Linked DNA regions of Homo sapiens. Changing the gene in region 1 together with any one later gene gives a genetic interaction. Each region holds a gene or a part of one and is shown in the gene's direction. Other genes may lie near its edges.

The links.
Region 2: changes in TRAPPC12 (region 1) and RAB1A are lethal when combined (synthetic lethality), as found in Homo sapiens cells (2 studies listed by BioGRID, with this or other methods).
Region 3: changes in TRAPPC12 (region 1) and PTAR1 are lethal when combined (synthetic lethality), as found in Homo sapiens cells (one study listed by BioGRID).
Region 4: changes in TRAPPC12 (region 1) and RAB1B are lethal when combined (synthetic lethality), as found in Homo sapiens cells (one study listed by BioGRID).

The regions. Positions count from the first base shown.
Region 1 is NC_000002.12:3,459,687-3,466,714, forward strand, and holds part of TRAPPC12 (trafficking protein particle complex subunit 12), read left to right. Parts: intron 1-576; coding exon 577-650; intron 651-957; coding exon of another isoform or gene 958-1,017; exon of another isoform or gene 1,018-2,912; intron 2,913-5,910; coding exon 5,911-6,009; intron 6,010-6,567; exon of another isoform or gene 6,568-7,028. UniProt on the Homo sapiens protein: Component of the TRAPP complex, which is involved in endoplasmic reticulum to Golgi apparatus trafficking at a very early stage.
Region 2 is NC_000002.12:65,120,103-65,127,130, reverse strand, and holds part of RAB1A (ras-related protein Rab-1A), read left to right. Parts: intron 1-7,028. UniProt on the Homo sapiens protein: The small GTPases Rab are key regulators of intracellular membrane trafficking, from the formation of transport vesicles to their fusion with membranes.
Region 3 is NC_000009.12:69,709,002-69,715,016, reverse strand, and holds the end of PTAR1 (protein prenyltransferase alpha subunit repeat-containing protein 1), read left to right. Parts: 3' UTR 1-5,492; downstream 5,493-6,015.
Region 4 is NC_000011.10:66,264,161-66,271,638, forward strand, and holds the start of RAB1B (ras-related protein Rab-1B), read left to right. Parts: upstream 1-4,478; 5' UTR 4,479-4,519; coding exon 4,520-4,533; intron 4,534-7,478. Other genes in the region: KLC2 (kinesin light chain 2), read left to right, coding at 1-59, 185-284, 863-912, 1,008-1,075, 1,495-1,603, 1,694-1,852, 1,933-2,057, 2,273-2,330 and 1 more. UniProt on the Homo sapiens protein: The small GTPases Rab are key regulators of intracellular membrane trafficking, from the formation of transport vesicles to their fusion with membranes.

The DNA.
Region 1 (7,028 bases):
AGGGGAGTGCCGAGTCCCCAGCGGAATGTGCCAGCCACTTGAGTTCTGGAACACGGTGTAGCACTCCTTGGGGGAACCGGCGTCTGCACCAGCCCATGGTCGGGAGGCAGGGGAGGCCTCATGGCTGGGCATGGGTGGGGCCCTCCGGGTGGCCTCCCATAGGTCAACTGCGAGAGGCTGGCGGCCACCCTGGCCAGTGGCCCTCCCAGCCTTGTCGAGCTGCAGGCAATGTCGTCGTTTCTGTCAGCTTTGCTCCTTTTCTCAGGGTTCTGGCTTTGGAAACGGGGCCCCCGGTCGGACCATTTGGCCTTGTGTCTGGGCTGATGCTGAGCAGCCACCCTCCTGGTTCTCTGATGCCGAGGGTCTCTTCCCAAAGCCACCTCTGGTCCCAATGCGAGTGCTGTATTTTCTGCCTCAGTGCAGCCTGCAGCATATTCAGCATTCCAGGCCGAAATCCAGTGGTGTTAACAAGAGGGATCTTTTAAAGTTAAATTAGAATTCACAGGACCCAGTAATTGAGGGCTAGAAAGAGCCTCGAATTTATTTGTGCACTTACAGGCTGCTCTTACCTTGTAGCCTCTATCCGGCTGTGGAGGTCACGTCTGGGCCGGGTGATGTACTCCATGGCAAACTGTCTGCTCCTGATGAAGGTACGTGGGTGGCCAAGCAGGGCTGCCATGTGATCTGGAAGAGCGGGGTCAGTGGGAGCCGCGAGGGAGCCGCTGGTATAATAGATGCTGGCAGGGACCGGCCGTGCAGAGAAGCCAGCTAAGTACTGGCTTAACAGGGAGCCCAGTGACACATTATGGGGCTATATGTACTTTATTTCTACTGCAAGAAATTTCAACAGAATGTAGAATTTAGATGATCAGATTTCATTATTGAAATGTGGGTCTAAATGATTTAATTAAAAGTATTGTTCATTTTCCCCCATTTTTCTCTGAACTCCATCCCCAGAAGGTGTCCTTTGTTCTCCCTATCTTCGTGGAGGGTGTTTTTTTCACCTCATGGTTTTGATTTTATGATTGATGCTTACAACACCTGAAGACAGGCTTCCCCACAAGACCTTCTTAGGACGTCACCCCAGAGCTCTCAGCCCGCAGGGAAACAGCTTAGAAATCAAGGAGCTGAACTGAGGCTGTCATCTGTTTTTCCGTGTCTCCTGGCTCTCGCCAGCCTGTGCAACGGTGTTTTTTGGCTCCTCTCTTTGTTTGGAACGCACCCCACACCTGGCTCACCTCCCACACTGGGCATCAGGGTGCCCTGTGTGGAGCTAGTGTCCCTGCAGCCAGCTGTGCGTACTGAGAGCTACTGCAGGAATCAGCTAGCAGCAGGCGCTCCGGAGCAGTGCTCGTAACACCTCCTGGGCTGTTCGAAGACAGCGACCTTAACTCCCACACCCATGCGGCTTTCATGGGGCCAAGGTCATTCCTGAGCTTGATTTTCAGCAAGGCAGAGCAGGCAATTTACCAGCGGAGAACTGTGCTCACGGGCTCTGTCATGAACCCTGAAGTGGCAGCCCTGCTTTATGCACGGACCCTGCAGCATCCCCAGAGGTGACTGTGACCCCGGGCACTGCTCCGAGCAGGCTGGGTGCGGGTATAGATTCACAGCCATCAGTGGCTCAGGCATTCCATCAGGAAGACGTGCAGCCCGCACCCCGGCTTTAGCGCAGCCCCAGTGCCCAGTGCGGGGCCGCTGCCTTTGCGCTTCTGCGTCTACGTCAGGCTGGACGCACAAGGAGACTCGGCGTCCTGTTCATCCTCGGTAGCAAGCGACCGTGACGCAGCCTCGCACTACTGCAAGCCTCAGCCTCCTCCTTAAAATAAGGGCATAGATCTGAGATCTCTGAAATCCCTCCCAGCTCTGACATTCACACAGCTCTCTCCTCTCCTTCAACACACTGGATAAAGGAAATTACGGTTTTCAAGTTCTGTGGTTTTGCTCAGAGCAGGTTTTTCTTCCGCTGCCACTCCTGAGATAGTCCCACTGAGGTCAGGTGGCCCGCACAGGTGCTTTGTTCTGGTCCTCACCCTCCTCCCACCCGCCCCCTTCCCTTCTCCAGCCCCCTCTGGCTTCTGCAGCAGGGCTTGCCCACCTCTGAGTGGGAGTGAAAAGTAGGCCCTCCTGCTCCCCTGCCCTGGTGGCCTCTTCACCACCCAAGGCTTGGCCAGCAACCAGGTGACCCCGAAGCACCCGGCCTGACCCCTCTGCCTCCCAAAACAGGCCATTCTCCCTGTGCTGCCTGTGGCCAGCCCTGACACCCCCACCTGGCGGTCTGGGCGGTCCGCAGTAGGCCTCCACCTGCTGAGGGCATTGTCAGCGTCACCTGAAAGTCACCAGCTTGCCGGAACATTCTTATGCAAAGACATGAAGAATCAATTATAAATTCACAGGACTGACGTTTCACTAATCATGGGGCTAAAACTCCCCAGGGAGGAAAGTTCCCTGTTCCACTGGCGGGCTTTCATTTGCATTTTAAGACACATTAATAGAAAACGACGGAATGGGCTTTTCTTTGTGGCACTGTGGTAGTAACACCACCACCAGGCTCCGAATGTGAGTCTTCTTCCTGTATTGCTGGGACTCAGTACAGAACATATTATTGCATTTCAAAAATACTTTTACAATGGACATGATTTAATTTGAAAGTTCAGCTTAAGCTTTCATTTTCATGAGTTAAAAAAAGGAGGCAAAAATGTTGCAATTAAAGCCAAGCCAAGCATATGCACTCTCTTGCCATCTAGTGAGCATACAGGGTATTGCAACAGTGTGTGATCTTAATAATATGGGGTATCCTGTTAATTAAATTATGTATATGGGCTAACAATGAGTTATTTAATCAGCCATTTAATTATCTTGAATAACATTTTTATTACAGTGAAATAAATACCAATTTAACTTCTTAGCAATGAAATGTATTCATACGTTTTAGCCCTGGATAAATCTGCATGATATGCTATAATGCACAGTGGCATGTATTATAAAGCATTGAAAATGTCACTATCTTCACTTTTTAAATACTTCTTCCTCTCCTTAGGCCTCACTGTAGCCTTAGGGCACCTGCACTGGCAGACCATATGGATGCAGGTGCCTGCCACCTTAGGTGGCTTGGGCCCCCCCTCCCCCGGGTGCCCCTGGGAGGCCACTTCCCTCCTGGTGTCCCCACAGCTCGCCAGTATGCACATCAGAACCCGCCGTGGCTCCGCACATGATGGAAAGGAGCACGCAGCTGCATCAGCTACCTTCCGTCTTGCTGAAATTAGACTGCAGAAGTCCTTGCTGGTTGCAGAATGGTTGTAAATCTAGTTTCACGGCCTGTAAACACGTGTGGCTGCTGAAAAGAAATGGTGAAGATTGAGCTAAAATAGACTTGTCCCTGGAAGTAAGTCATTCATGTCCTTTACAAAAGCCAAATCCACAGGATCTGGAGAGTAGGTTAAGCTCTCTTGAGGAGCTTCTTTTGGCCATTTTACCTGTGAAGGGCTGTTTCCTCTTCAGTAAATAAAGTCATTAAGTAACCGTCAACCTAAGGAAACTTTGTAACACAATCCCAAATCCTCATCTGCTGTATTGACGATGGGCCCCCTGAAGTGCCCCAGAATTCTTCCCCCAACTGCAGCCCGGACACACAGACACGTGTCATGTTCACACCTGAGGGACTGGCGAGCGCTACTGTTGCTGAGCTGGTGGGAGTGGCTGCCGGCGGGTGCAGGGGCCCCCGAGATCCCTTCTCTGCCGCGCCTGCCCCCGGCCTGGAATCCAGCTTCCTCTCACACGGCTCCCAGGCCTGTGCACGTGCTCTTTGGGAAGAGCCATGCCTAAAGTAACTTCCCATCAAAGAGCATGGCTTGGTTTCGTAAAAACCTGTCTTTTGTCATACTAGATTATCTTCAGAAACACTGACCCCTGGCCCTGAGCACTGAAAGAGCGGTTAGGGTGATGCGGCTGGCCACGGCATCGCCCACTAGCAGTGAGTGCTGCGCCCCCACCACGCCCCCACCCTGCGCTCTCTGTGGTGGCCGCCTCAGCCTGGAGCATCAGTGGCGTGAGTGGGGCACTGGAATGACCCAGTGACACTGCCGGGCTGATAACAAGAAAGTCAAAGCCTGCCTTTTGTTTACTTGAAACCAAAGGTGGGACATGTGTGGGATTAGAACAGACATTGCCCAGCATGATGGGTGCTCGGAAGCCTACTTCCTTCCCCAGAGAAGCCTAGGGGGGCAGCTGCTACTTTTCCCCGAGCTGGTGCAAGCTGGTGAGTGCAGCCTCTGTTGGAAAGCAGGGCTGCTCCCCTAAACTTCTCAGATCAGGGCCAGCCCAGGGTGTGCAGGCCCCACAGCTGCATCTGGGGTGCCATGTCCGTCCCAGCTGCAACCTCAGCCGCCCCGAGTGCCCCCATGCCAGGTCACAAAGCCCTCCCCTGTGTGAGGGAGCTCACACACACACGTCCACACACACACATGCTCACACACACGCTCACACTCATACACAATGCTCACACACGCTTACACACACATGCTCGCACTCGCACAGCTAGACAGCAGAGACAGGCAGCAGGAAGGCGTGGGAAAGGAGACCGAGGCATGTGCTGTCTGGCTCGTCATGGGCGTCAGGCCTTGAATAAAATTAGTTTTAATGAGCTGTACTCGAAGGTACTAGACTGGAGAGAGTCGTTTTGGGTTTTTTTTGTTTTTTCCTTCCTACCAAACTGGAATTGTACTTGTCTGTCTTTCTTTGTAACATCCCAATTAGCAAGCCAGTAACTCCAGTCCCAGTTTGGAGGAAATGGAACATGTAGAAGAATAAAGAAATAAAAGTACCTCTGGGATTATACGATGAGTAAGTAAGAAGAAAAACACCATTGGTGGCCATAGTTACTGCTGACCGCGTGCTTATAGCTAAGTGCGAGAATGCAGGGGAGCATTTAGTGCAGGGCCTGCCGCACACAGCTCGCTCAATAAATGCGGCGATCACTGTCATCCTGGAGAGAGCCCGGGTTTGCTGGGGACTTGAGACAAGCTACCACTGTGTCCCACGTGACTTTGGCAAGACCTTCCTGCACGGAGACCGCGTTGCTCACACCTGGAAAGGGTGACTGGGTCCGCTCAGCGTCCAGCAAGTGGCTGTGATGGGCCGGCATGAGTGGGCAGATGGACAGTGAGACTGTGCTGCCAGGCCTTGCCCTTGAGGAGGGGCCACGGGCCAGACCACCACAGGCAGGGCAGAGCGATGAGGAATCCAGCAAAGGCCTTTGGCAGAAACCAGATGCCCTGAGCACGGCAGCTGGCACAGCGCTCCTACATGTTCCCCCGTAGCTGTCTCTAAAACGGGAAGGTCTCATGCGTGCCGCACGGAGCACACGACATTCACGCACTCTGCAAGGCCGACCTCCATCACATACTCAGCCTCAGCAAACTTGTTTTGTGGTTTTTCTTTACATGTAAAGGTTTGACCTTAATTTCTAGCATAGAAAACGTTTAAGAGACACTTTAAAAATTTGGCCTATGTATTTGGAGGATGGAGATGAGACAGCGTTCGCCAACTCACATGATAACTTTGTCAGGAAAGAGAGTTAGGTGCAGTCCAAGTGAAATATGAATCGCTGTTTAGAAGATGGAAGCAGGAAACAGACCCTCAGGCCCAACTAAACCGCGACAGCCCCCGGTGACAGGCAGGACCCCGCCGTTGCGATGCGCACAGCTCAGAATCCCGGCCCGACTGCAGTCGGGAGAGCAGCCGCCCCCTGGCAGCCGAGCACCGCGTGCTGGTTTCCAGCTTCCCCGCCAGCTCCTGCGTCAGCGTGTCCTCTCTCTACACCGCGTCTGTATACACTTGTGCTCTTCTACACGTGTGAAACCCACAGTGCTGTTCTCAGCTCTAAAGTACGTTGGGTTTTTCTTCCCACAGGATTATGTGCTGGCCGTGGAGGCGTATCATTCGGTTATCAAGTATTACCCAGAGCAAGAGCCCCAGCTGCTCAGCGGCATCGGCCGGATTTCCCTGCAGGTACCTGTGCACGGTCAGACATGAGCCAGAAAGGCCTTATGATAGTTCTTTGCTCAGATGGGCGACTGTTTGCTTTTAATCATTTTAATATAAGAAAGACTGCAGAAAATATTCCAATTCAAATGTATGTGACCATGAAAAGGGTGGGTTCTTTCCAGGAGTTCTGGTTTGACTGTGGGAGGCCCTGCTGGCTTTTGTGCCTGTTGCTAAATGTGAACCCACAGAAAGTGTCATCACAGCCACACTGAAATGAGTTACTCTAGACATTGTCCTGCTGCAGTTACGAAAGCACTGACTAAACCGTGAGGAATCTCAGTTCAGCTTATCCCGTAATAGTCACTCGCTGATATTTTGCCTGAAATAACCCTTGAATCATGTTTGCTGGACAGACAAAGTCCAGACTGAACAGTGGTCTCAGTAATGCACAAAGCTCGGCAGGACCCCCTTTGCTAAGAATGTCCTTGAAGCTGGAATGCATTTTCCTGGAATATTTGGTGACAGGGAGGTCACAGGGAGTGATGAGTCCCGCCCACATCCCTGTCAATCCCACCCTTGCAGGCGGAGCACAGGGCAGCTTCTGCCCCTCTCACCCTCAGTCTTAGGTCACGTCCCAAACCTGGGCCAGGGAAAGGAGGCACGAGCAAGGGATGGCTGAGCGGGGAGAAGCAGCACAGACCTTCCACAGGCACCCACTCACGGTGAGCCAGGCCCTGCGCTGAGCATTTCACCTCACGGTGTGACTGGCTTGTTTTACAGATCAGCAAACTGAGGTCTCCTGGTTAAGTGATATCCAGCTACAGGAGGCCACATAGATAATGGGGAAGCTAGAATTTGAACAGGGCCTCTGTGAACTCAGGGCCTGCACTCTCAGCTAACAGCTGGTCCTCTCCCCCTCCACACAGTTGCTCACACATGCACTGACACACGTAGGCACACGTGCACACACCATCTCCTGCACGCCGCCTGCTTGTGGAAGTCCACATGGGACACCAGATAGTGTTGGAGGACAGCCCTGTCCA
Region 2 (7,028 bases), about 62 Mb from region 1:
AAACAGTTTTTATATTTTTTCTGGGATCAAATACATGGGTATCTGGCCTACTATATTTGTATTCTAGACTGTTTAGTAAAATAATACAGGAATTTGAGAAAACCTTTGCAAAAGTGTTAGTGAAAATTACTTAGGGTGAGAGGAAGTGAGGGATATTTTATTAGGGGAGGTCACAAGGGCAGTGAGCAATCAGATTTTTAGTAATCTGACTTAAGCAGTTTCTTTTTGTTTTAATGAAGCTTGTTATCTTTATAAAAGTAATTAGAGAAAATTTGGAAAATAAAGGAAAGAAAGAAAAGTTCTTTAGTGTTTTATCACGCAAATACAAGCTCATTCGTTTTTAACATCTTGTTCCAAACTCCAAAGTCTTGCTTTCTCTTCAATTAAAACTTTAATGGGTGGATGCTTTTCCTGCTTCCAGTATGTTATCTTAATAACTAACAATGGTATATTAGCTAATGTTTACAAATGTACTCCAGATGTTCCTTAAGTTACTTTGGTTTATCATTACCAATTTATATTGTTTCTTTTAGAAATTTATAATCTTTGTTAATGGGTTCTGCTAAATTTGGTAGTGAAAATGGGATCTTGAGAAAAAAGATTCTGAAGCAACAGAATTTTTAGATTTATATTGGTTTACATAAGAGTTGGTAGCTGTATTACTTTTTTTGTTTGTTTTGTTTTTTTTTTGAGACGGAATCTTGCTCTGTCGCCCGGGCCTTGGCCTCCCAAAGTGTTGGGATTACAGGCGTGAGCCACTGTGCCTGGCTGTTTGTGTTTTTTTTTGTTTTTGTTTTCTTTTCTTTTTCTTTTTTTCGAGATGGAGTCTCACTCTGTCACCCAGGCTGGAGTGCAGTGGCGCGATCTTGGCTCACTGCAATCTCTGCCTCCTGGGTTCAAGCGATTTTCCTGCCTTGGTCTCCTGAGTAGCTGGGATTACAGGCATTTGCCACCATAACCAGCTAATTTTTGTATAGAGTACCCAGCCATCTCTAATGTTGATCAGGCTGAAGCAGGTGGATCACCTAAGGTCAGGAGTTCAAGACCAGCCTGGCCAATATGGCAAAACCCTATCTCTACTAATACAGAAAATTATCTGGGTGTGTTGGCTGGCGCCTGTAATCCCAGCTACTCGGGAGGCTGAGGCAGGACAATCTCTTGAACCTCGGAGGTGGAGGTTGCAGTGAGCCGAGATCACACCATTGCACTCCAGCCTGGGCAACAGAGCAAGACTTGTCTCAAAAAAAAAAAAAAAAAAAAAAAAAAGGCAATTGAAAGTGTAATCTGAACAGTTAAAAAAGTAGATAGAAAGGGTTAAAGCTTTTTTTTGAGGATCTGAAGAAAAATGTGGATTTTTTTTGAGCTACGTTTTGAAGCAGGCAGTGATTATTTCAGCACATTAAGAAATGCTTAACATGGCCAGGCGCAGTGGCTCACGCCTGTAATCTCAGCACTTTGGGAGGCCGAGGTGGGCGGATCATTTGAGGTCATGACCAGCCTGGCCAACATGATGAGACACTGCCTCTACTAAAAATACAAAAATTAGCTGGGTGTGGTGGTGCACGCCTGTAATTCCAGCTACTCAGGAACCTGAGGCAGGAGAGTCACTTGAACCTGGGAGGCGGAGGCTGCAGTGAGTCCAGATCATGCCACTGCACTCCAGCCTGAGGGACAGAGTGAGACTCCTCAAAAAAAAAAAAAAAAAAAGAAAGAAATACTTAACATTATTCTCGTGATTATTCTCATAACATTTTTCATAATCCACTGGCTTCCAGTGGATTTTTTTAGTGTCAAGAAAATAATTTTGATTGGTTCATCTTTAAGGAATGTGTTAAGAATAAAGCATGTCTACCTGTCTTCAGTATACCAGCTAACTATAGTAGGAAGAAATATAGTAGTCTACTTAGATCAACTATAATTCTTTAATGCAGAAAAAGTTTAAAGTATTTACCTTATTTTTAGCCCCCATCCCCTTAAGTATATCATGGCTCCAGAATCTCTGAAAATGTTATCAGTCTTTCAGACTTTGCTCTTCTTTCATGTTATACTCAAGAAACATTTGACCTTTTTTTTTTTTTTTGCTTGCATTGTGTTTCAAATAATTTTTAACAAAACTTAAGTGTTTGAAAGTGAAAGCAGGTTGTCTTTGTGACTTTTGGTGGTGGTTTGAAAAACTCAGAAAAGTTTAAAGAAGAAAGATAACTAGTATTCTCATTGTCCAGAATATGATTTTTTAAATGTCTATAGAATATCACCATCTGTAATTCTTCCGGTAATTTAAGTATTCAGTAGTTGTATAAAACCTTTAAAATATATATATTGAGAATTTTGTGTGAATGAGATGATGAGATAATCTTGTAGGATCATTTAAAGATAAGAACTGAGGCCTGGCACAGTGGCTCATGCCTATAATCACAGCACTTTGGGAGGCCCAGGCGGTAGATCACCTGAGGTCAGGAGTTTGAGACCAGCCTGGCCAACATGGCAAAACCCTGTCTCTACTAAGCATAGAAAAATTAATTGGGTGTGGTCGTGCCTGCGTGTAGTCCCAGCTGCTTGGGAAGCTGAGGCGGGAGAATCTCTTGAACCCTGGAGGTGGGCATTGCAGTGAGCTGAGATTGCGCCACTGCACTCCAGCCTGGGCGACAGAGCAAGACTCTGTCTCAAAATAAAGTAAAATAAAATGAAGATAACAACTGAAATTTCACATTAAAAATTTTTTTGTAGCGACTGTGCCTCCTATGTTGTGCAGGCTGGTCTCAAACTCCTGGCCTCAAGCGATCCTTCCAAAGCACTGGGTGGGCCACCATGTCCAGCCTGAAATTTTGCATTAAAAAATTTCCCGCTTTTGGCTGGGCGAGGTGTCTCACGCCTGTAATAGCAGTTTGGGAGGCCGAGGCAGGCAGATCACTTGAGGTCAGTTCTAGACCGGCCTGGCCAATGTGGTGAAACCCTGCCTCTACTAAAAACACCAAATTAGCTAGGCGTGGTGGTGTGCGCTTGTAGTCCCAAGCTACTGAGGAGGCTGAGACAAGAGAATCGCTTGAATCTGGGAAAAAGAGGTTGCCGTGAGCCAAGATTGGCCACTGCACTCCAGCCTGGGTGACAGAGTGAGATTCTGTCTCAAAAAAATAAAAAATAAAAATTTCCCCCTTTAATCAAATTAAGTTAAAATGAGGGATGTTAGACAGTTTTTAACCATCAAATATTTTAGTTTAGTTTTTTTTTTTAACGTTGTCTTAAAGATGGAAGTGCTTCAAAATCAAATCTTCCTTGCCAGTTCTCTACTTGGCTTCTTTTTTTTTCTTTTTGAGACAGAGTCTCACTTTGTCACTGGAGTGCGTTGGCGTGATCTCGGCTCACTGCAACCTCCGCCTTCCAGGTTTAAGTGATTCTTCCACCTCAGCCTCTCAAGTAGCTGGGAGTACAGGTGTGTGCCACCACACCCGGCTAATTTTTGTAGTTTTAGTAGAGACAGGGTTTCACTATGTTGGCCAGGCTGGCCTCAAACTCCTGACCTCGTGATCCACCCACCTCAGCCAAATTGCTGGGATTACTTGTGTGAGCCACGCGCCTGGCTTCTACTTGGCTTTTAAAGGGAATTTTGCTTTCTGAGTAATTTTATTTCTCAGGTATCTTGGTCTTTTTAATTCTGGAAGCAATCTTAATAATTTATGTATGTGCCCTGTAATCCCAGCACTTTGGGAGGCCGAGGTGGGCGAATCACGAGGTCAGGAGATCGAGACCATCCTGGCTAACACGGTGAAACCCCATCTACTAAAAATACAAAAAATTAGCTGGGCGTGGTGGCAGGCGCCTGTAGTCCCAGCTACTTGGGAGGCTGAGGCAGGAGAATCATTTGAACCCGGGAGGCAGAGCTTGCAGTGAGCCGAGATCGCGCCACTGCACTCCAGCCTGGGCGACAGAGCGAGACTCTGTCTCAAAAAAAAAAAAAAAAAAATTTACGTATGTGCTAACATCCTGCTATATTCACCTTCCATAGCAATCTGTTGGCTGTGTGTTGTGTATGTGTGTGTTTTCTCTTCTGGGTAGTTTTGACTATACCTATGTGATGGTTTCACTATTTGTAGTTTGAATAGTTCAGTTTTATTTTGGATAGTAAAGAAGAGCTTGCTTTTTTTTTTTTTTTTTTTTTGTCTGAGACGGAGTCTTGTTCTGTTGCCCAGGCTGGAGTGCAGTGGTGTGATCTGGGCTCACTGCAAGCTCTGCCTCCTGGGCTCACACCATTCTCCTGCCTCAGCCTCCCGATTAGCTGGGACTACAGGTGCCCGCCGCCAGGCCCAGCTAAATTTTTGCATTTTTTAGTAGAGATGGGGTTTCACTGTGTTAGCCAGGATGATCTCCTGACCTTGTGATCCACCTGCCTCTGCCTCTCAAAGTGCTGAGATTACAGGCGTGAGCCACCACGTCTGGCCAGAATAGCTTTCTTTTGTGGCAAGCTATATACTTTCCTAATATATGAACATGTTTAGGGTAAAATAAGATGCTTCTTAACGTTTTGAGATTTAAAAAAAATTTGCTAATCAACTTTGAGTGTCTGTTTTTTGAGATATAGGGTCTTACTCTGTCACGCAGGCTACAGTGCAGTGATGCAATCATAACTTACTATAGCCTCCAACTCCTAGCCGGGTTTCAGTGATCCTCCCACCTCAGCCTCCTGAGTAGCTGAGAATACAAGCGCGTGCCACCACACCTGGCTAATTTTTTTTTTTTTTTTGTATTTTTTGTAGGGATGGGATTTCAATATGTTGCCCCAGGCTAGTCTCAAATTCCTGGTCTCGAGATCCACCTGCCTCAGCTTCCCAAAGTGCTGGGATTATAGGCATGAGCCCCACGCTTGGCTGAGTGTCTTAAGATGAAGAAAAACTGAAAATGGGTGTAGTGTGCCAGTGCATGAGGTATTTTAAATGTGTAGCTTACCAGCTTTTTTTTTTTTTTTTTTTTTTTTTTTTTTGAGATAGAGTCTTGCTCTGTCACCCAGGCTGGAGTGCAGTGGCACAATCTTGGCTTACTGCAACGTCTGTCTCCCGGGTTCCAGCATTTCTTCTGCCTCAGCCTCCTGAGTAACTGGGACTACAGGCGTCCACCACCACGGCCAGCTAATTTTTATATTAGTAGAGATGGGGTTTCACCATGTTGGCCAGGCTGGTCTCCAACTCCTGACCTCAGGTGATCCGCCTGCCTTGGTCTCCCAAAGTGCTAGGATTACAGGCGTGAGCCACTACGTTTGGCTGCTTATCAGCTTTTTACCACTTTGTCGCCACTACATTTTGGAATTTTCCTTTGAGAATTAGGCAAAATGCCCAGACTCCCCCCCGGCCCCCGCTTTAGAGGGAGAGGGGAGCAATTAGACTATTCCTTTGTTTCCCTATAGAAGGTGGGGCTGAGATTACTGCTTTGATATCTGGAATGTAATTTAGGGAAGAAAATTTAGGTCTTGGCCTTTCTTTGGAACCACCCTGGGAGTGTTGCAGATTATTAATAGGGTAATGGTGGAATGATATTCAGGGGAAAAATGGTCCTGAGGAGCCAGAGAACTAAGTGTTAGTTTGTTGGCTGACTGAAACATGTGAGAGATAGGGTACAGAAGAAGTAGGAAATAGTTTTCCTTGGTACTTCTGTGACAGGTTGGCTCAATTGGCTGGAACACCCTACACTGCTTTATTAAATCCAAGGTTGTGATAGGTTCCAGTTAAGTTTACTGTGTTCTATGCTTGTAGATTTCCTAATTAGGACAAGTAGTGTTAAATATGCATGCCTTTATTCACAAGAGGGACCATTCTTTTGGAAACATCACTTTTTAATAATACTAGGTGCTATTTAGCACTTACTCGGTGCCAGCCACGTGGCTATGGTTTTTTTTTTTTTTTTTTTCGAGACATGATCTAGCTCTGTCTCCCAGGCTGGAGTGGTGGTAGCACAGTCATGGCTCACTGCAGTCTCAACCTCCTGTACTCTAGTGATCCTCCTGTCTCAGCCTCCTGAGTAACTGGCACCATGCCTGGCTAATTTTTTTTTAAGAGATGAGATGTCGCTATGTTGCCTATGCTGGTCTCGAACACCTGGGCTCAAGTGATCCTCCTGCCTGAGCCTCTCAAAGTGTTGGGATTACAGGTGTGACCCACCTCACTTGGCCATCTATGGTCTTTACATAGGGCATTTTGTGCAGTCTGCGTCTCAAACTAGTGATCTTCAACAGTGAAACTCAGTGAATTATGTAATTCATGTTTTCCAAGAACAATGATGGATTTAATTTCTCTGAATGTATTTCCTTTGTATAATAATAGTACTTAAGTGGAATTACTCTTTGTCCTTTCTACTCTCCTTATAGATATTTTCTGGTATCTTGATTTGGGACTGTTACATTTAACCCATTTATGGTCGTGTAGCCATACTCACGTTACATTTGATGCATCTGCTCCCTTTGTGTCTATATACTCATATAACATTTTGCATAAAGTTATAGGCAGTTCACACCAAGGCTGTTCATGAACCTCAGATTAAGAATACTTGATTTAGGAGATTGAAAACAGAAAAGAGAATGTTAACTATCATTATCAATATTAAAATGTGAAAATCTGAGAGTGACAAAGCTTAGCTTTAAATCTGGTATCCCAAACTCATTTGAGTTTTTTTTTTTTTTTTTTTTTTTTTGAGACAAGGTGTCGCTTTGTCCCCCAGGCTGGAGTGTAGTGGTGTGATCTTGGCTCACTGCAACCTCCACCTCCCAGGTTCAAGTGATTCTCCTGCCTCAGCCTCTGAAGTTGCTGGGATTACAGGCTGCGCCACCACGCCCAGCTAATTTTTTGTATTTATAGTAAAGACGGAGTTTCACCTTATTGGCCAGGCTGGTCTCAAACTCCTGATCTTGTGATCCTCCCGCCTCGGCCTCCCAAAGTGCTGGGATTACAGGTGTGAGCCACTGTTCCCGGCCTAATTTGAGTTTTAAAATGTGGAGTTTAAGATGTTAGTCTTAAAGTGGGTTAGATGAAATTTATAAAAATAGT
Region 3 (6,015 bases), on another chromosome or scaffold:
GCTTTTAATCATCTGAAGAAATTCTTTGATTTCAGTGACTTACTGATCTGTACCTGTGCACATATCATTTTATGCTTCTCCTTTTTTCCCCGCAACTTGAACTGTGACTCTTTCAGATATTTCTTAAATCTGTATGAGTCATTTTTTAAGCTTAGGGATTTGATATGTATTAATGTCCCCTTTGTCTTCTGTAGATTTTAGCATTTTATTACCTCTTAAGAAACTCTGGGCCCAGACTTTCAGTCATATTTCTTATTCCTATGGTACAGTTCTCACTTAAAGGCTTAATTATTAGTAGGGTTAAATATATACAGGTTATCTCTAAAAGTACTTAAATTTTTAAATAAGGGCTTATGTGATACAAGATACGGAAACAAAAGTTTTTGGATTTTTATGCAGTAGTTTGCAGGAAAGCAAATACATAGTAGATCGTATGCCACTTAGGTATGTTCAGGTCATGCCAGTTTATTCTTGTTGGGCCACACACACATGTATGTGTGTGTAAAAGGAATTTTTAGTATTGAAGCAAACAAATTGTCAGTTTAATAATTTTCTCTTACATAGCACAAGATGGCAGATACCACCTACTGTACAACAATCTAATAATCCCTACCTTAGTTCCCCTGAGTTATAGAAGATGCTAAAGATTTAGTTGTAAAGGGAAGTAACATGATTTTTTTTTTCTAAAAAGCTGTTTTAAGCTAACTATTATTTTGCTACTGGAAAATTATATTTTAAAACTTACAGATATTTAAAGTATGCTAGAAAATTTGAACCTGATAACAACTGAACCTTTTGTCTTGAATAAATTTCTCAAATAGAACTGTGCAAACCCTAGCACTTTATGTGTTGCTGCCTCCCCATACCTAGGTATGCTCTGTAATAAGCTCCCATTTAATGGAGAGATGTGTGGAGGCACTGAGAAGTTAATGAAGAAAAATCAACCCTAAGAATTCCTTATTGTCACATAGTGTCTTTTAAAAAATAACTGTAGAGACTGTGTTAATTCGAGTGCCTTTCTTACTTTTTTGGGAGCAAGATTATATTTAATGTTTAAGAAAACAGGATGGAAGTTTTATCAAACAGTTGATTGTGGCCCATTGTTTTATTTATTCCCATCGCTAGGCATGGCCCCGTAGGGTATTTTATCCTTCAGTGAGAGACTGATATAAGCAGGCAGGATGCTTTGATTATTCCATTAGTTATCATTTTAAGCACCCTACCAAGATTTAGTTCTTTCTTTCTGGCAACTAACGTTTTGGGGGTTGGAGGCATCCCATTTAGAGGATGGTGTGTGCACAAATAGATTAGCCTGAAACCTGCGTCCAAAGGGAAACAGTGGCACTCTGCCCTAAAATAAAGGCCAGAACGTTGTCCTAAATGAATCCTTTGCCTTACTTTAGGACCTTCCTTCCCTCTCAAATTCAGGCATAATGTAATATAGTTGAAAGGGGGAAAACAGTACTTGCTTTCTCTCAGGTATTGGAGGAAAAGAAGTAAATGCGTAGATGAAATTTTAAATGTATCATTTTATCTGTTTGTATATGGAGAAGGGAGGGATAGGAATTCCATATTTCAAGATAGCAAATATAATTTCATAGAAATATATAGCTAAAGATTCCAAAGTGCTTTTACAGAGAACTGTTGAATAATATATTCCTAAAGGGCAGCAATATGCCATGTTCATGGTGAAGACAGAAAACCAATGAATCAGTTGTGGATCTCAGGTGGGAGAGGAAACCTCAGGCTCCCAACTTTGACTTCTCTACTCTCACCAGGCCATGTTAACACTGTAAAACCAAACTCTTTGCTAAGAACAATACAGGGCAGTAGTTTAGTCTGCTGATGAAACCTTGTGCTTCCAAGAATATTAGCTATATATAATTTGTGCTTTCTGGATGATTCTATTGTCCAGAAAGCTAACCCTGACGTTACTTTTATTAGTCTGTTGTTATTCCTCAGGGTGTAGAAGATTTAGTAAATTCAGGACAAATTTTATATTCAGTGGCAAAAAGAAAAGGCAAAAATATGCTAAATATATTATTAGCTCTTAAATTTTAGTATAGATCGTATTTTTTATAAACTATTACCAGTACAGTAGCTAGTAGATATTCTGTGACTGCCTCATTGTTTATCTTGCTGCTTTGGTCCCTATGGCTCTAGTATGAACATTCTCGTGTCTTCTGTGGAAATGATTTCTGTGTTATAGTTCCATCTTTGGTAGAGGTGGGGATGATTGTATTTTGTTTTAGTTGACATCATTCTCAACTTTTAGAAATACTGTTGAGGAAAATGATTACCGTTGGTTTTCAAATTGACAACTATTTTGCTTCCAAAGACTTCAGTTTCCCTTTGTTTTATGTGTAGACCTCATATATGTTCAACACATTGCATACTGCCTTGCACATTGTAGGAATTCAACAAGTCAAGAGTTGATAAAAGCTAGAAAGATAAAACTAGCTTAGCTATCATATCATCATTGTCCATATTCTTAGCTTTGGGAAAAATATACCATTTTGCATAAAATACATAATCAGTTTCAAATGCATAAGGCAAAGATATACAGTTGCACAACATTGCAAGTGAAATTTACAAAGGATTTTTATTTTTGTGTATGCTAAAAGTGCTCCTACTTAAAGCAGTTTTCTTTATTAGACCAACACCTTCCAGCAAAGTTAGAAACCAAACACAAGTGCTCATTTGCCCAAATTAACCAGATAGTTATGTAAACTGTTCATATTAAGTCTTTAGTGGTTTACAAACAATAACATTCTGGCTTTTCTTCCATACCTTTTAGGAATCAGCCTTAATTTTAAGTATAGCAGTCACTTTCCTCAAGGTACTATGCAGCATACTTTAGATTGCTTATTTATCATTATAAGGTGATAGGTAATAAATTTGAGGTTTACTTGTCATATAATTTCATATGGCAGATATTGATTCAAGGAGCATTCTATTAGAAAAAGTTGATAAATTATCCTCCCTTACAAATATCATCTTGCATTTGGAGCAGGTATTTTTTTCTTATTAGTTAAAGACTGGGTACAGTTATAGTAGATGCTCAATAAATGCTTAGTCAGTGATTGATCTAACATCAAACTAACAGCTTTCAGAAAGGAGACTGTTGACATCTTTTCACCAAGGAGTATATTTGTAGAGTAATATATGTGTGGAATTTTGAAATTATATCATTTGACATGATTTATGAGGCTTATTTAAGCTGGAGTTAGTAACGTAATAGAAGTATTATTTATACAGAACATAGTTGAAAGATAGGAGATGTGAAAGATTAAGTAGTATTTTCTTGTGCAAGGCATATTAATAAATGTAATTAAATGTCTTAATAAGCAGCTGGCTGAACTCTAGAGAGAACTGCTGTAGTCTTCTGCAATCAGTCTCTGTATTGGTATATCCAGTACTATCGGGTTTAGGTTCTTTTTATTTTTCCTTAAATCTTACTTGTTTCTAGCGTCTTAAGAGTGGTAATGGTAAAATGTGAAGTTACAATAAACTTCTGCTTGTTTTCTCAGAACATCTTTGGCATGAGGAAGAACTTTTTGTGAATGATACAGTAGTCTCAGCATCTGTTAATTTGTGGTTTTCAAAGCATTTTTGACAGAGTTTACCTAATGTAAAAAGATTAAACAGTTTTATAAAACACAAATAAACATTCCTACCTGAACTGTGAGGAACAGAGTGTATAGTACAAATGTAATTAGGCATTGCCTCCTGGCGAGGTTCTTGATGCATGACTTCGATGCTGGCTGCTGACTGAGGTGACCACTGTCAGTATTGTACTTTGGCATATGTTGTTTTTAGGAAAATAATGGAATGCATTCTTAGATTAACTTACTGTTTTTGAGTTGGAAAAAATAAAAGATGAGGTATTATAAGTATGCCAAATATTTATACACTACAAAAGATTAAAAAAGGAGAGGGAGAAAAAAAAAGGCCAGTTATGATTTTAATAGCGTCTAATTTTTTTTTGACTCGAATTTTGTGGACACTAGTCAATTGCATAATTTAACATGGAGGAGCTTTCATTTAAAAGAAGTTCTCAGCTACTATATTCTGCCATTAAAATTAACCATGCCTGTTAATTTTACATTGCTTGAAGATATAAGTAAGCTGCCGTCAATATTGTTTTAAGATTTTCTTATAGTTTATGTTTAAATGGAAAAGTTACATATATAATCTATGGTGCAGGGTCAGGCATTGGCCATTAAAGATAAGTTTGGCTAACTATTTTACTGAAGAGACTAATGGTCTTCCCTCTGTTGTACTGCTATGTTTCTTGATCTGTTTTTCCCCAATGTAACAGTCTACATTGAAGTCCTTTAGCTCTCTCCATATACTAATTGACATTTGTTAAGGATTCAATATTTTGTGAATTCTTTTTACCCTTAAAATGCATATCTTTCAGAGAGATAAGAATGAATTTTGCAATAATTTATATGCAGAGTGTGCTTATGGGTTTCTGGGAGTTCAAGTTAGTACCCCAGAGTGCTTAAAAGTATGATGCTAAATTCTAAGGCTAATGTAATGACTGTAGATTATCTATGTCCACATTGTTCAACAGAAATATAATGTGAACCACAACATAATTTTTAATTTTCTAGTAGCCATATTAAAAAAGAAACAAGCAAAATTAATTTTAATAACAGTTTATGTAACCCAGTATATTAAAAATATCATTTCAACATGTAATCAATATAAAAGATTATTAATGAAACACCTTATCTTCTTTTTCTTCCATACTAAGTCTTAGATTTGAGTGTATTTTGCACTCACAGCACATCTCAATTCTGACTGGCCACATTTTAAGTGCTCAGTAGTCACATATGGCTAAGGGCTACTATACTGGACAGTACAGATTCATAGAGTATAAAATATGACTTTAACTTTGGAGATGGTGAGGTAGGCCTGTAATTATGGTACTTTAAAAATTCAGAATATTTAGAAAAGCATCTAATAGAATTATCCACTTGTTTTCCTTCATCTTCATTTTAATATGTTCTAGAAGTAGGATCAGCCTGTTCCAATTTGCCAAGCATTATTAAGGAGGAATAATTCCATACCATGTAAAATACCATGATATGCTGATTATACTACATTAACAAATTTTTAAGTTGCGTTCACTAAATTCTGTCCTGTTTCTTCAAAATAATATAGCTTAAATTGCATGTTAATTGTATATCTTACCTATTTTGTTTTTATATTATTCTTACAATATAATCATGTATATTAACAAACAGCCCTGGGATTCTAATCTTCCTCTGCAACTGTCTTCCAGGACTTACTGGCACTTATTACACTGTGATAAGTGGCAGAAAAGTAGAATGAAATATTCTTTTTCCATTAGATTTGTTCTTATGTGACCATGTACCAAGCCAGCTATAAAGTATTGTATTTCTGTAGAATATGGAAAATAGTATTTGTCTTACCTTTGCTAAATGTTTGCAATTTCTAAGTAAACCTTTTATCTCCTAAAATGAGTGTTAAGTGTGATTTTGTTTTTACTTTTGGTGCTTTAAACTTGAGTCTAGTCTACCAAGCTTTCCATTTTATTTGCTTTGATGGTGGTAGGGGGGTGGAGGTGTGAACTGTTGTCTAAATGAAACCAATAATTTTATGACCTACATTTGTAGAAAGAATAAAAATGCCACTATGTCTAGAACATAAAAGAAATGTCAAAAACAAATTAGAGATATCGCCACAGTTGTTTTTAAATTGTATTAACAGTGACTAATTGCCTTATAAAAGTTATTATGACTAGATACGCTTTTTCCCATCCATTTCAAATGAAGCTGTAGAGCACATATAATTACTCGGTTATTTTAGTGTTACATCCTATGTTTTCTCAATCCTGAGTCTCACTTCTGTATGTTATAAGCCAGATATAGTGGTCTTACTTACACAATATAATACATAGATAGACTCCAAAAAGTGTTTGATAAAGTGGATACTTTTTTTAACTCAAATTTTAAATATTTCAGAAGTGTGTTATGGGAAAGA
Region 4 (7,478 bases), on another chromosome or scaffold:
TCTATGCTACACGCCTCGGGCCCGATGACCCCAATGTGGCCAAGACCAAGAACAACCTGGTACCTTGGGGCTGAGAGGAGCTGGAGGATGGGAAGGAGGGAGGCAGGGATGAGGTTGGGGAAGAAGGAGAGAAAAAGGCTTGGCTGCATGCATCCCGCTCACTCTCTGGGTCTCCCGCTTCCAGGCTTCCTGCTACCTGAAGCAGGGCAAGTACCAGGATGCGGAGACCTTGTACAAGGAGATCCTCACCCGCGCTCATGAGAAAGAGTTTGGCTCTGTCAATGGTGAGTGCGTGGTCACCAGGTGCCTCTAGCCCATCCATCCCAGGCCCACTCTGCCATCAGCACCCAGGACAAATCCCTCAGCAGGGCAGGCCCTCAGGCTTTGGCCTGGCTGGTCACCAGCCTCACCCTCAGATGGTGCCCAGCCACCTGTGCTCACGTTTGCACACATGAGCACACACCCAACTCACGCAGCCCCCTTGGCCTGCTAGGGCCTCACACGCCTTTGCATCCCCCTTCTCCACTGGCGATTCTTGCTCACCTTGAGGGCCTGCCCCAGTGTCTCCCACTCTGGGAAACCACCTCTGGCCCCGGATGGTCAGTCATCTGCTCCTGAGTCCCTCGGAGCCTGGCCCATCATTCAGGCCTAGCACATGTCTTGGGCTGTGGCCTGAGGTGCAAGGGTCTGTTCTGCTCATCTCTGTCCAGAAGAGGGTCAGCAGTGTTTTGGGTCTTACTCTTGTTCATGCATTCAACGAAGCCCAACCGTGGTCTCCCCTCCCCTGACCCCAGTCCTGTGTCCAGCCCAACCAGGTGAGACCTATATGGTAGGCTGGTGACAGTCCCCTTTCTCTCCCCAGGGGACAACAAGCCCATCTGGATGCACGCAGAGGAGCGGGAGGAAAGCAAGGTAGCTCTGTGGGGCAGGCTGGGCGGTTGTCAGGGGAGGCTGGGATGTGCAGAGGGGGGCCTGCTCTCACTTCTTGTGACCATTCTTTCCTCCAGGATAAGCGCCGGGACAGCGCCCCCTATGGGGAATACGGCAGCTGGTACAAGGCCTGTAAAGTAGACAGGTGAGTGGGGCGGGGCTGGGCTGGGGAGCAGGGCACGGCAGGGCGGGCTCCACATTCCATACTCTCACCCCCAACACACCCCTCCTCTGCTGCTCATCTGGCAAGGCCCAACTCACAGGTCACCTGTCCCAAGAAGGCTCTGTCTCCCAATTCTCAGCCTAATTCTCTGGCTCTGGGTCTCCCAGCTTTTGGTCCTGGTGACAACATCCCATGAGGGCCCTGGGGCCAGGTCCCCAGCCCTGGGGTGATTTCCCCAGGACAGAAGAGGCTGGGTGGGCCCAGCACAGGGCTTGACATGGGAAGGAATGGATTCTGGCTACCCCGGAGGTCCATGCTTCCTCAGGGCCCACTGTGGGCTGGGTGCCAGGATGGGCCCTGGGTCTGGGGGAACATGGAGTTTGAGACTGTCCCATCCACAGCCCCACAGTCAACACCACCCTGCGCAGCTTGGGGGCCCTATACCGGCGCCAGGGCAAGCTGGAAGCCGCGCACACACTAGAGGACTGTGCCAGCCGTAACCGCAAGCAGGTGGGGCTCCATGCAGGAGGGGGTGGGCAGACACCTGTGTGGCCCTGGGTGTGGTCCATTCACTGCCTGATGCCCCTGCCCCTCCCTCAGGGTTTGGACCCCGCAAGCCAGACCAAGGTGGTAGAACTGCTGAAAGATGGCAGTGGCAGGCGGGGAGACCGCCGCAGCAGCCGAGACATGGCTGGGGGTGCCGGGCCTCGGTCTGAGTCTGACCTCGAGGACGTGGGACCTACAGCTGAGTGGAATGGGGTGAGTCCGGGGCCTGGGCCGGGTCGGGCTGGGAGCCTAGGTGGCCAGCGGGGCCTAGAGGCAAGCCTGTCCACCTGCAGGATGGCAGTGGCTCCTTGAGGCGCAGCGGTTCCTTTGGGAAACTCCGGGATGCCCTGAGGCGCAGCAGTGAGATGCTGGTAAAGAAGCTGCAGGGGGGCACCCCCCAGGAGCCCCCTAACCCCAGGTGAGCCCCCCACCAAGGTGAGCCTCAAGAACCACCCAGCAACCCCGGATGAGCTCCTGACCCAGAGTGTGCCCCACTGACCCCAGGCAACCTCCCCATCCCTCTCAGGCTCCACCACCCACCAGTCTGTTCCCTCCCCAGCCCCACCCTTCTCCCTGCCCCCATCTCCCGTGAGTTCCTCCTTGGGCAAATCCCAGGCTGTCCTTTTCCCTCAGGATGAAGCGGGCCAGTTCCCTCAACTTCCTCAACAAGAGCGTGGAAGAGCCGACCCAGGTAGGGGCAGGCGGGTGTCTGGGCACTGGGCAGCTGCGGCCGGGGCTGCATGCGTGCTGCCAAGCTTCCCTCCAGCATGCCTCTTCATCCAGCAACAGTTCCTGGCTCTGTCTCAGGCCTACTTTGGGCTGGACAACGGGGAGACACGAGGGGAACCCAGCCTCTCCTGGGGGTGGACGTGTAAACGGCCAGTGCTAACACCGTCACTGTGGAGATGGACGGGAGTGTCAGGGCACCAGGGTGTGGCCTTGGGTCAGAACTGCCATTGCCTCTGCCCAGCTCAGGGATTCCGGCTGCCTCTGCCAGGTCAGACCCCTTCAGGCCAGGGAGGCACAGACTGGCAGCAGCACAGGGCTGAGCCACCTGCCCCCTCTGCCCACAGCCTGGAGGCACAGGTCTCTCTGACAGCCGCACTCTCAGCTCCAGCTCCATGGACCTCTCCCGACGAAGCTCCCTGGTGGGCTAATGCTGAAGGGGCAGCCAGTCACCAGAGCGCCCACCTGGCACACCCCCCTCACCCCAGCCCTGCGCATGGGCCTGCTGCTTGTCCCGCCTGTCTCTCCCACAGCCCCTGTCTTTTCTGTTCAATCTCAGGGTAACCTTCTCCCTTGTCATCTCAGCCTGAGCCCTGGAGGCTGGGCCTGCCCACTCCAGCTCCATCCCTTATTTATTCCTTCCAGCAGGGCCCTCTTCCCTAGGTTCGGGCCAGCAGGAGGTGCCGGCTGGAGTCTCCACCATAGACTCAGTGGCCTGGCCTCCCCAGACCCCAGAGCCAAGAACACTAAGCACTCGCCGGCCCTTCGGCACCCTCGCCCTCCCTCCCGACTCAACCCGGCCGTTGCTTCTGTATATAGAGAAATAAGTTATTGGCCGCGCGCCTCCCTTCAGTCCACGGTACTACCCGGGCCTCCCCTCGTCCCTCTTCTAGTGGTACCGCCCAGGCCTTAATCACCCCCATTCCGTGCGGTGGTATCTCCCAGGCTCTACATTCTCGGGAGCGGCGCCTCCCAAGGGGGTCCTGGGACCTTCTCGCGCTCCTCCTGGCCTCTGAGGGATGCGTCCTACCCGCGCCATCGCCCCGTGGCCCAGGACGGGGACCTCCCCTTAGTCCGTCCTCCCACCGCCGGGCCCTGCCCCGCATCCCGGCCTTATGCACTGCCCCTCCCACCCGGCCCCGCCCAGGCACGGCCGACCCCGCCCCGGGCACCGCCCACCGAGCCATCCTGCCTCGCCTCCCCCCACGCCTGCAGCTTCTCGCGAGGGGCGGCGACGGTCCCCTGGTGGCAGGAGGGGCTCCCCCTGTTGCGGGTGAGGCGGCTGCTCTCATATTTTCAGATGTTGCTGTAGAAATAAAGACGGTTTAAATCTGAGCTGGGCTTGTTTTGAGACGGAGGTCGGGGGCCCCCAGCGTCTCTAGACTGGGGTGGAGCCGGGAAGGGTCGTGCGTGAGTGGGGGACAGTGTGTCTCGCTCAACCGCTGTCCGCGCAGCTGGGCCCAGATATTGTGCCCCACCCCGGAATTGCGTGAGGGGCCCACAAGTCAGGCTTTCCCTAAAACACTCACTTGTGGGGTTCTGGAGACCGCGGGCTCTTATGAGCTCTGCTCCTCACAAAGTTTTTGACCTTGAGTGAGTTTCCCGAGACTCAGTTTTTTCATCTATGAAATGCGGGTGATGACGCGCGGCTGCGAGTTAGGACTGCCCAGTACACGAAGAACCCTGGACAAATGTACTTTTATTAGTCTTACTAGAACCCACATTCTCATTTAATGTTCACAACGTGGGTATTGGGAGGGCAAGGATGACTACCTCCGTCAGACAGATGTGAAACGTGCCAAGCCCAGCCCTAAATTGAGCTTTCTAAACACCGAGTCGCGGTCAGGCTTTCCAGCACTGTCCTCAAGCCTGAGTGCGTCCGGAGTGCAAACTACAAGCCCCAGAAGGCAATGCGCCAGCAGTGATGGGAGTGGGCGCGGAGGCGCGGGCTCCCCGACTACGCCTGCGCAGCGGGGCTGAGTTGGAGAACGTCTTAGACTACAAGTTCCGGGAATCAGCGCGGCGAGGCCTGAGAAGAAGACGTTTGCGCCTGCGCGTCGCGGGCGGGGCCTCTGGGGCGGAGCGGCCACCATCTTGGAACGGGAGGCGGAGCAGAGTCGACTGGGAGCGACCGAGCGGGCCGCCGCCGCCGCCATGAACCCCGAATAGTGAGTGAGCCCCGCCCGCGCCGTCCAGCGCAGCCTCGATCCCGAATACAGGGCTGTACGCTTACCGGGGTTGTCTGGCCCGGGTCAGGACTGTGCGGCGCCCCCACATCCGGGTCCCTCTTCCGCTGACCCCCCCCCACATCCGGGTTCTGCCCCTCCCCCCAGGGGCCCCAGGACCCCGGCTCAAAACCCCGAGCCCTCGCACCCGGGGCCCAGACGTGGCGACCCCCAGGGGCAGCTCTTGGAGCTCGAGACATCGGTCCTACCAGGCCTTATCGGTCAGATGACCCCGCAGTCCCGGTCACTTCAGGCCTCAGTTTCCCCACCTGCTGCTTGACAACTGTCCCGGAGTTTTGGAGCCCGTCTTGATAGTTTCTGGTCTCGGGTTCAGGCTTGGGCCCTTTAGGTCGGGCAGTGAATCCCTCTACCCTTCTCTTTCTCCTGAAGCCCGGCTCCTGGGGCCGGCCCAGAAGCTAGCCAACTACGCGGGAGGCCCCGAAGCGCCGCTTGGGTCGCGTCTCCCGCAGGTCCTCTCTTCCGGGGCTGCCTCCTACCCTTTGCCTGGGTCGCGCTGTCCTGTCGCTCCCGCCGGTCCGTCCTTTCCCGCCCTCTCCTCGCTTTTGCTCAGGCCCCCAACGCCACCGTCACACCCCTTCCCTTGGCTGTCACACTGCCTGTGAAGTTTAGATGAATATGGAATTTGCTCTCCCCCTTCCTGTGGGATTCTCTGGTCCTCAAACTCTCCTCACTCTTGGTCACTCCCCCTGCGGGTAGGTGGCCCACATCTCATGCCCAGGACTAATAGTTTTCCCCAAGTATCAGTTATCTTCTTCCTTTTCTGCCACTTCCTTTTTCTACTCCACATCCAGGTCTCAGATTTCCTTGGGGAAGGGTGAAGCTCTGAGCTGGATTGGGAGGGGAACAGAGAAGGGAACCAGCAGGCTCTCGAAGGGACTTTGGAGTCTGAGAAACCTGGTTTGAGTCTTAAAGCGATAAACTGTGTAAGTTAGGGCAAGTCACTTCCCTTCTCTGGCCTCTGGTTTCCTCATTAGTTGACAATGACAAAACTGACTTCATTGAACTGTTGTGAAGATTAAATGAGATGATGCATTTAAAGTACTTCACACAGGGTCCGTCCACAGGTTGGAACTCAAGTATATTAAATGTGATTACCTTTTGCCTTTTTTTTTTTTTATTTTGAGACAGGGTCTCTCTCTGTCACCCAGGCTGGAGTGCAGTGGCGTGACGATGGCTCACTGCAGTCTCCAACTCTTGGGCTGAAGCAGTCCTCCTGCCTTGTCCTCCTGAGTAGCTGGGAATACAGAGGCACACCACCACACCTGGCACATTTTTTAATTTTTTGTAAAGACAGGGTCTCGATATGTTTCCCAGCCTGATCTCAAACTCCTGGGCTTAAATGATTCTCGTGCCTCGGGCTTCCAAAGTGTTGGGATTACAGGTGTCAGTCACTGCACCCAGCCTTAAGTGCAATTTTCACTGCAACTTGACCACCTCTTCCTGGTGACTTCATAACAGGTTTTTGTTGTTGTTGTTGTTGTTGTTGTTGTTGTTGTTGTTGTTGTTGTCTCCAAAGAGATGGGGTTAGCCGGGTGCGGTGGCTCAGGCCTGTAATCCCAGGACTTTGGGAGGCCGAGGTGGGTGGATCACGAGGTCAGGAGATCGAGACCATCCTGGCCAACATGGTGAAATCCCGTCTCTACTAAAAATACAAAAATTAGCTAGTCATGGTGGCGCATGCCTGTAATCCCAGCCACTCTGGAGGGTGAGACAGGAGAATCACTTGAACCAGGGAGTCGGACGTTGCAGTGAGCCGAGATCGTGCCACTGCACTCCAGCCTGGTGAGAGAGCGAGACTCTGTCTCGAAAAAACAAAAGAAAAGAGAGACGGGGTTGTGCTGCATCACCCAGGCTGGTCATACACTCCTAGGCTCCAAGGATCCTCCTCCTGTTTCAGCCTCCCCAGTAGCTGGAACCACAGGCACACGCCACAGCACCCAGCCATCAGTCTCTCTACGTGGGTTTTCAACTTAATAGGTTCTAGGCTGGGCCCTGGCTTCTACTTCTGGGGCCTTCTCTGCCAAGCTAGGCACACGCAGGGCATGTACTGGGGATTCCCTAAATAGCTCCTACTGGACCAAACCATGAAGTTTCAGAAATCAGGTTAGGATACCCAGCTCTGTTGCCTTGGCAGGTCACGTGTCTTGATTTCTTTCTCCATAAAGTGAGAATTTAGACTCAGCAAGCTGAGAGCCCTTTGGGCTAGCTGTTTGTGGAGGGAGGCATCAGCCCTCCCTGACCGGGACTGTTGGGAAGATCTGGTGAGCACCATAGTATTCTAAACCAAGGGATGGCCAGGCGCAGTGGCTCACCCCTGTAATCCCAGCACTTTCAGAGGCCAAGGCAGGTGAATCAATTGAACCCGGGAGTTTGAGACCAGCCTGGGCAACATAGTGAGACCCCATCTCTACAAAAAATGAAAAGATTAGCCAGGGGCCGGGTGTGGTGGCTCACACCTGTAATCCCAGCACTTTGGGAGGCCAAGGCAGGTGGATCACCTGAGGTCAGGAGTTCGAGACCAGCCTGGCCAACATGGTGAAACCCTGTCTCTACTAAAAATACAAAACTTAGACAAGCATGGTGGCAGGTGCCTGTAATCCCAGCTACTCGGGAGGCCGAGGCAGGAGAATTGCTTGAACCCGGCAGACAGAGGTTGCAGTGAGCCAAGATCGCGCCATTGCACTCCAGCCTGGGCAACAAGAGCAAAACTCAGTCTCAAAAAAAAAAAAAAAAAAAAAAAAAATTAGCTAGAAGTGGTGGTGGTGGTGGACACCTGAAGTCCCAGCTACGCAGGAAGCTGAGGTGGGAAGATCACTTTGAGCCCGCAAGGTAGAGGCTGCAATGAGCCGTGATCACTTCAGTGCACT